Regions from separate parts of the Homo sapiens genome. Here region 1 is linked to region 2. The links come from fine-mapping of genetic effects on plasma protein levels. A gene starts in region 2. The other region holds a variant in brackets. All regions are shown on one strand. Distances are between the middles of the regions. Region 1 overlaps PDGFD (platelet derived growth factor D). Region 2 holds the start of PDGFD (platelet derived growth factor D).

Region 1 (4,396 bases), 160 kb before region 2:
ATCCTAATGAATAAATTCATTGCCTTTTGGAAGTACCTGTTGGGAGGCCCCGAGGTAGCTTCAGAATGGAGGCTCATCACCAGAAAGAACAAGACATGATTAGAGAGTTGTAAATTTTGGCTCCACCCCTAGACCTCTGGGGAGGGAGAGGGCCTGGAGATGGAGTTCAATCACCAATGATTTAATTAATCGTGCCTTCACAATGAGACTTCCATCAATACTCTTCTAGGCTGGTGAATACATCCAGGTGTTTCGAAGGTTGCAAACCCAGAGAAAGCACTCTTTCCATACATCTTGCCTATGTATCTCTTTCACTTGGCTGTTCCTCAGTTGCATCCTCTATAATAAACTGGTAATAGCAAGGAAACTGTTTCCTTGAGTTTTGTGAGCTGTTCTGGCAAATTATTCAACCCAAGAAGAGGGTTATGGAACCCCTATTTACAGCTGGTTGATCAGAAGTAGGAGAGGCTTGGAAGCTGCAACTGACATAGAACATGGAGGCAGTCTTGTGGGACTGAGCCTTAACTTGTGGGATCTGACACTGATTCCAGGTAGTGTCTGAATTGAATTGAATAGGACAAAACAAGCTGGTGTTGGAGGATTAACTGCTGTGGGAAAAAACCCTCACCTCACAGATTTGGTATTGGAAGTGTTCTATGGGCAGAAACAGATCATGGTACCCTCCACATCATCACCTTTAATAATCTTTTAATAGCGTCTTTTTCCCATGATTTTTTAGGCACAGAATATTAGTTCTTTTTTTTTGAGATGGAAAAGACGCAAGATCAGCATTAGTTTATTCTCTTTGTAAATATTAACTGGCTCTTCCTTAATGTATTCATCTCTGCTTTCTGGCATACATTACCCTCTATGGTCCTAGAAAGTAATAGTCAGTGCTGTTATTCTCAGCAAAATAGCAACATAATAAAAGCTGTCAGCATAATAAACATGCAACAGAGGACAACCAAATTTGAGGCCCCTCTTTTTATTATTCAAAGGAAAATAAACCCGCTGAAAGGATTTAGCAGTTCAGTAGTTCATTGGCAATGCAGAACAAGTGTGTGCAGTAAAGTACAAAAAAGAAAAAAAAAATCTTCCTCAAGTCTTATACATGCTAATTAAGCGAGTAAAATGCTGTGAGCGGACATTCAAAGAACAACAGTCCAGGCTTTCTTTGATAAATATGCTAAGAAGAGAGAAGATTATCAGACACAGCTTTCATCTTCTACTTGTGACCCAGAAACTGCAAGAAACAGACCCTTCTGAGGAGCACAGGGAATCTGGGGTGAGCTTTCTCTTCCTTCCCACCCGTATCTGAGGCCTTAACACTATGAATTCGGGGTCAGGCCCTGATAGCTTCCCCAACCATCATCTCCCAGTGCTGGCGTAATTCATTATGGGTAGGAAGGCCTGGGTCAGCGGGAGCCGGGCAGGGGTTTATGCTCCCTAAGCCCATGGCAGGCTTTGACCACACATGATGCAGCTGCCCGTAACCTGGGATGCTGGATACCTGTGCATAAATGCTGCTCTGTGCCTGGAAAAGGAGAGGACCTCCAGATTTCACCCTTCTTTGGAGGTCACACAGTCCTGACAGTTGCACAAGTGAGTTTCTGTGAGTACTGCCAGGTTATTCGGCTCTCTGCCTCAGCAGTCTACGCTATCTTGTCTGTTAGGGTCTTTAGGCTTTTTGAAAAAGAAGCGACACATGTTGGGTCCATTTAAAAGGCTCAAAAGGAATGTTTGATACGATGCTTTAAATTCATCTTTTTCTTTTTTCACCTTGAAATAGTACCGTAAAAATTTTTTTCCCAACTTACCTACAGATATCATTTTCTGCTTCCTCTAATCCAAACTGATTGTCAAACACTAGCTGTATCCGTGTATTCTCCTGAGAGTGAAGCCGCCATGTCAGGAGCAGGTTCCTGGGGTAGCTGTTCGGGAATCTAGGACTCTGCACGTAGCCGTTTCCTTTCACCTGGATGGTCTCATCTCTTCGGTACAAGTCTGTGAGGTGATTGCTCTCTGTTAGTAGTCACAACTTGTAGAAATTAGTATGTTGCTCCAATTACAGGAAAGTCAAAAAAAGAGAACAGTTTACAACACATCATACTTCAAAACACTTCTTTATTTTGCCTAAAAACATTAAGTCTAAATGCAAATAAACAAACTTTTTTTCTCACACTGATGGCGTAGCAATCTATGTCCAGTGACTAGCATCTGAGATACTCAATAAAGACTGCTGAGTGAATGAATGAGTGAAAAACAAAAGAAAAGACTCTAGTGATGTTTAATGACCCTTTATTTTGTATTCAATTGATATTCTCCGATGGGTAACCTTCTGCCTTCTATTAAACAAACAACACATCTTTCTTCTAGTATCCCCCACCTCCCTAAATTCTTCACAAATCCACCCTTGATGTCTGTCTAACTTTGTACTTTGGG[A/C]GTTCTCTTAATATCATTCTTGACAAGCAAAGACTAACAACAATCTCAGAACTTCAGTTCATTTAGTATGGATTAGAATCAGCAAATAATTTCATCCATCCTTCCACCACGAAAAATCATAATTTTGTGTCTTGGGTTTTCTATGAGTTAAAATAGGTCCAATTCTTACTGTATTTTCTCTATGCTGTTAGCCAGATAAAAAGAATTTATCTGGTTTTTGTACTGGGTTCTTGGAAGAGAGTTTCCAAACCCTTGGAATTTCTCACGTCATAGAAATATTTTTGTTATTCATGATATGGCCCCCGGGACCACGTCTGAATTTATGCTAATGAAGTGACTCACTGTGGGCCCACAGATAACTTTAGGATGGGGGTCGGCCATGCCAGATAGACCAACCATGTGATTAAGGGTTAGGGTTTGGAGCCATTATGACATTCAACCTGATCTCTCTCCCAACCTCTGGGGATGAAAGACGGATTGAAGATTGAGTCCACTCATGTTGATAATGATTCCATCAATCATGACTGCATAATGAAACTCCAGTGAAAACTCTAGACACCAAGACTTGGGTGAGTTTCCCAGGTGGGGATACACATTGATGTACTAGCAGGCTGATGTGTCCCGAGGACACAGAAGCTTCATGCTTGAGACCCTCTCAGACCTTACCCTATGTGCTTCTTTATTTAGCTGGTCCTAATTTATATCCTTTATAGGAGGACTTTAATTTTAAGTACAGTGCTTTTCTGATTTCTGTGAGTTGTTCTAGCAAATATCAAACCTGGGGGTTTATAGGGACTCCCAAATTTATAACCAATTGGTCAGAAGTGCAAGTGAGCTGGGGTCCCCCAAACTTGCAGCTGATGTCTGAAGTGAGTACCATATTGTGGTGCTTGTAATTTTAACCTGTGGAATTTGGCCTAACTCCCGGTAGTTTTCATCAGAATTGCATCATACAGTGGATCCCCTTTTCATCTCTCTCAATATTCAGAGTTCATTGCATTTTGGATTTTGGCTTTTTAGGCCCCACCATAAACAGACCTCCAGCCACAGTCTATTTATGTTATCCTGCAGAGAGTTTACTTTGAGGACTATAATTCAGTGAGCCTGGTCAGGGAAGCTATGCTTGCTGGTGGAAACCACTGTAAGGTAGGGTTTCTGAGGGTGGCTGTTAGAGCTTCCAAAAATAAGACAAAGAGGATAAGAATTGGCATGTGAAGTACAAAAGTCTCTTTTGCAAGTGATTTTGCATATGGGAATTTAAACTTTTTTTGGACTCATTTAATGTTAATGTGTTGCAGCTTGTTCAGCTAGACTTTGTGTGGGAGACAGAGTCGTAGGAAAAGCAACGGGTAGTTGAGGGATGTCCCCACTCCCTGCCTCCAGATGAAGGCAGTGGCCTGCAGTCATGGCAGCACTTCCAACAAGGACAGCAAGCAGACAACTTCCTAGGAGACGAAAATCATTTCTGCTCGTTGAGTCTTTTCCCTTCCCTTGATCTTATGCTTAAAGATCAGCTGCGAAAACTGGTGTCTGCTCATTTTGTCATAAGGGGCTTTTAGGCAATGGGTCTTGATATGGTTTGGCTCTGTGTCCCCACCCAAATCTCATCTCTAATTGTAATCCTCACATGTCAGGGGAGGGACCTGGTGGGAGATGACTAGATCATGGGGTGGTTCCCCCATGCTGTTCTCGTGATAATGAGTGAGTTCTCATGAAATCTGATGGCTTAAAAGTGTGGCGGTCCCCTGCAACCCCTGCCTCCTGCTGCCATGTAAAAGGTGCCTTGCTTCCCCTTCACCTTCTGCTATGATTGTAAGTTTCCCAAGGGCTCCTATGCCATATGGAACTGTGAGCCAATTAAACCTCTGTTCTTAATAAATTACCCAGTCTCAGGTAGTTCTTTATAACAGTGTGAAAAATGACTAACACAGGTCTGAACACTGTTTTCTAGGTT
Region 2 (4,396 bases):
TGTGTGTGTGTGTGTACTGTTAAAGTAACTGCAAAACAGTTTTAACTGAAATATGAAGAAATGAGAAATCCAGGGTAGTTTTTAAAGCTTTCATGAAACATAGCATTTCCCATATAGACTGAACAGATGTATGGAGATGTATAGAGTTTTAACAATGGAAACTAAAATGAGATTATTCTCTTTCAAAAAAAAAAAAACCTGCTGAGCTACATAACTTGGTTTTAGTCAGAATCTTGGGTTAATGGGCAATGGTTACATGCTTTTCATTTTCTGTCCTTGACTTCTTGTAACTGATACTTGGGAGGGTGAGGATTACAAAATTATGGCTATGAAGTCATGCAAATTACAAGTGGAATTTTACTCTATGTAGCTAAAAGGACATATAAAGTGCAACTAATAACAAACCTACAAGATCTGTCCCTAGTGGAAACATTAAAGAGTAAAGACAAAAAACCACACAGTTTGGTGTTGGGCCTAATCCTTAAGTGTAGTAAAAAAATAAATAAATAAATAAATTACGTGCTTTTAACTAAGACAGAGAGTTACCAAAAATGCACGGCTGGAATCTTTTACATAAAAACGCTATGAAAAAGTAAGATGACTCTGTGGCTTCCCCTGCTACAAATCTACACCACTTCAGGTGACGAGTACACTGATATCCATAGTCTACTCATCATCAGATAACATAATGAAATTTTGGTTTCCCTGCAAAGTCCAAAAGTCATTTAGTAAATTCCAAATTAAGGACATACCAAGAAAGAAACTGATAAGATGGCTAATAGGAATTTACCAAGACAGTCAAATACTGTCAGCTGAAACTGTGAAGCCATCAACAATTGCTTGATGGTCTCCTTGGGAGATGTGTTAGTACTTTAAGCAAGCAGGAGAGAAAGATACTGATGTAGGAAAAAACAAGATCCAAAAGCCTATGGGTCAGTTCAGGTACATGGCAGAACAGCTAAAATTTGCTGGGAACATCAGCTACAGTTTTAGGTGGAGGCCCCAGAAAGTAAATAAACTCAGCTTAGGGTCTCTGGAACCAGTGACCCAGGTGTCCTCTAGAGTAAAGGAAAACAAACAAGCTGGCTTGGGACCTTGCTTAGGACAGCTGTTTCAGGAGCTGTGCTCCTTGTAGATAATTGGAAGCCGCTTCTGCAAGGAAACTAGCAGCAGAAGCCTGGTGCCCCTGTGGTACTGATGAAACCCCAGAAGCCTTGGTCTCCTACACTCTGAGCTTCTGAGTCAGGGTGAACTTCAATAGGAAAGTCACTTAGGGGACCTAAAGGGCAATAGGCTGCACACTGCCATTTCCCGAAAATAAATAGTAAATTGTCACTGTTCCAGATATAACTGCTAGATTGAAACGCACGATTTCTCCTCTCACTCGTAAAAATAAATAAATAAATAAATAAAATTTAAATAAACGTCTATCACCCAGGGAAAGCTACTCTTGACTCCTTCCACCTATCAAAATTGCCTAAGAAAGGTTGAGTCTGACCAAGGGGCGGCGCAGCTTGCAACTTTCGCCAACTCCGGGATGAGGCACCGCATCCTGGTACCAGAGGCTTGGACACCAAAATGACTTCTCTAGGGTGCAGCAAGGTGAGCCACCTGGCTTATCCTATCCCCATCAGCACGCGTCCCACACCTCTCAGTCCCATTCCGGAAATGGAGCTCTCTCAGGACTGGATACAGGCAGGAGACCTCCCTCCCCAAACAATGCATTCAGCCCGAGTTCACATTCAAGATTCAAAAAGAAAGGGGAAAAACATAGAAAGAACAATAACAATAGCAAACATGATTTTTTTTTCAGTTAAAAAATAAAATGAGTCTCTTACCATCTCGCCTGAGGTTGGCGTTGCGCAAAGCTTTGATGGATGCGCTCTGCGGGGTTGCAGAAGTGTCCCGACAGCTGCAAAAGTTTGCGCAGATTAGAGTGTAGACAAAGATGAGCCGGTGCATTTGGGATCAGCGACTAGAGACAGCGTCGCTCCAAGAAAAAGCCGGGTTCTGCTCCCGGGACCGACGCCGCGCCGCCCTGCGCTCTCGCCGCCTGCGCTCGCCCTGCGCTGGCCCGGGTCGCTGTGCTAATCGCCGAGCTCTCCCCAAACTTCCTGCATGCTGAACTTTCCGAGCGCGTGTGGGTGCCGCACTTCCTTGTGGTGCTGAGCTGATAAATGGTGACGGGACAAACAACAGGTTGACGTTTGTTTGTTCGCCCCCTCCGGTGGCCGGCAGCTGCAGCACAGGCTGCAGGGGGCGGGCAGCGCCGAATCTAGCGGGGCAGGCGAGCGGAGCAGCAGCGTTCTCCAGCCCCGGCCGCGGCCCCTGAGAGGCGCGCACTCGGGCTCAGAGCGGCGGCGCGAGCACCTCAGCTCCCCAGTTTCCCAGGCCGGGCCTAAACCTGCTCTGCCACTGAGCATGCCCAGTTTAATCGCCGGCCGGGACTCTTCCCACCGCCCTGGGCTTTACCCTCCTGGTTGGACCTGTAAGGGCTCAGGAAACAAACTCGCCAGGAGGAAGTGGGAGAGGGTAGAATCCCAGCACTTCTTCAGAGGTGACTGGCACATCCACCCACAAGCCACAGCTCTCCGCCTTGATGGTGGTGGGATGTGGGGACAGGGACTGGAGTTGGGAGTGTTTATTTTACAATAACCAAAATGAGACTCTACTTAGTTAAAATTTCACTGTTTATAGTGAAAAAATACAATCACAAAGGAGCTTAATTCCGAGCTTTTCTTTGAGCTCCCATCAGTGTGACCTTTGGGTGAGTCAAGGGTACCTTTTCAGGGAATAAAATAAAAATAAAAGTATATCACCCAGAGAAAGCTACTCTTGAGTCCCTCCATCTATCAAAAATGCCCGAGAAAAGGTCGAGACTGATGGAGGGATGGCGTAGCTTTCACTTTTCGCGAACTCCAGGATGAGTCAGGGCATCCTGGTACCAGAGAGTATTGGACACCAAAATGCCTTTTCTAGGGTGCAGCAAGATGAACCACCTATCACACAGGGCTGTAGACGTGATGGGCCATGTGGTGCAGTGTACAATAAGGGCAAGAAGTCTTCACGAGCGTTTTTATATGCACTAGCTCCAGCCCTTCCACAGGAAAGGGCAACAGGACAGAGTGGGGTTGAGCAGGAACAGACTGAGCAAGGGGAAGAAGTTGCAGAACACTGTGCTCACTTGCCTTCACAGTCCATAGGAAGAGGCATGGGTCGTTGAGGCTTTTGGGATTCTCCCTACTCTGCGTCTGGAAGCTCAGCAGTTGAAAGGGGCTGCCTCTGGTTTACATCGTGTGTCTGTCTGCCCATGGGAGGGGACTGTATTTGGAAAAGGAATGAGTCCAGACTCGCTGCTCACTGGCTTTGTCCCCTTGAGCAAATCATCTGATCTTTCGAAACTCAGTTTATTTATTTGCAAGAGTAGCAATTGTTAATTTGTATGGTTGTGGTGAGAATGATGTGAAAAAATGTTTAGCATATTGTTTTGTTTGTAGCTGAATCCAAATCCAAATTTATATGATTTCTCAATTTTCCGCTGATGAGATCTAGAAGAGAAAATTTTCAGTCTTTTTCAGGCCTTCCAGCTCCTGAAAGTCTGGCATATGGTAAGTGATATCCATACATAGGGAACTTTAAGTGGCTGAGAAGGGCAGGAAGTTCTGGAAAAGGTAGCCTTGTCAAGTTATTATACCATCCAACAAGGACGAGGGTTCATGTGTCCCTTCAACATAGTCAAAGATCAACATGTTTCATCTCTATTGGCTTTTTGGCTTAAAATGGTATTTTACAAAATTTAGGTTTGTGGGCCATGAAATCAACTTCAATACCAGAATAATTGTTTAAATAAATGGATTGGAATACAATAGTTTAGAAATTTAATTATCAGGGTTCATTGGAGATAATAATATTGTTTTATGAATATTTTGTTTCAGATACACGAACACTACAATATAATAGTTATTTCTTTGGGGCATGATCAAAAAAGTTTGAAAGCCCCTGGAAAAAAAGATCTAATTACATTGTTTCAGGATATAGTGAAACCCTGGGAGAGACACTAAGGATCATTTATTCATTCAACAGGTATTAATTAAGCATTAGTTTTTCCCCTTGTGTTATGCCCTGGTCTAAAAATCTTGGGGATTAAATTGTGAACAAGAAATAAAGTTCCTAATCTCTTTGAGTTTACATTATAATAGAGGAAAGGGAACATAAACAAGTAAGTATGTAACTGTGTTAATAAGTGAAAAGGGGTAGAGATAGATGGGATAGGAGTAGGGACTAATTGAAATATGTGATATCGTTTTTTAGAAGTGGTTGGAAATGCTCATTCAATTTCATACTTAGCTTCTGATATGAGACTATAGAAAAACGGAGAAAATTTGCAAATGACTTA

What was found. A credible set is the group of variants that fine-mapping cannot tell apart. PIP is the chance, under the fine-mapping model, that this variant and not a neighbour inherited with it causes the effect. Protein levels are from the aptamer-based SomaScan assay of Sun 2018.
Region 1: its variant is the best candidate, but not a certain one, in a credible set for the plasma level of the PDGFD protein (Sun 2018, PIP 0.66).

The regions. Positions count from the first base shown.
Region 1 is chr11:103,998,234-104,002,629 of GRCh38, forward strand. PDGFD (platelet derived growth factor D) reads right to left here. Exons shown (of 7, transcript NM_025208.5): 2 at 1,818-2,022. Among named protein-coding and RNA genes, the nearest start is that of DDI1, 36 kb to the right of the region's middle. The variant A/C (reference allele first, on the strand shown) is at 2,443.
Region 2 is chr11:104,161,966-104,166,361 of GRCh38, forward strand. It overlaps PDGFD (platelet derived growth factor D), which reads right to left and starts at 2,182. Exons shown (of 7, transcript NM_025208.5): 1 at 1,839-2,182. The coding sequence starts at 1,962.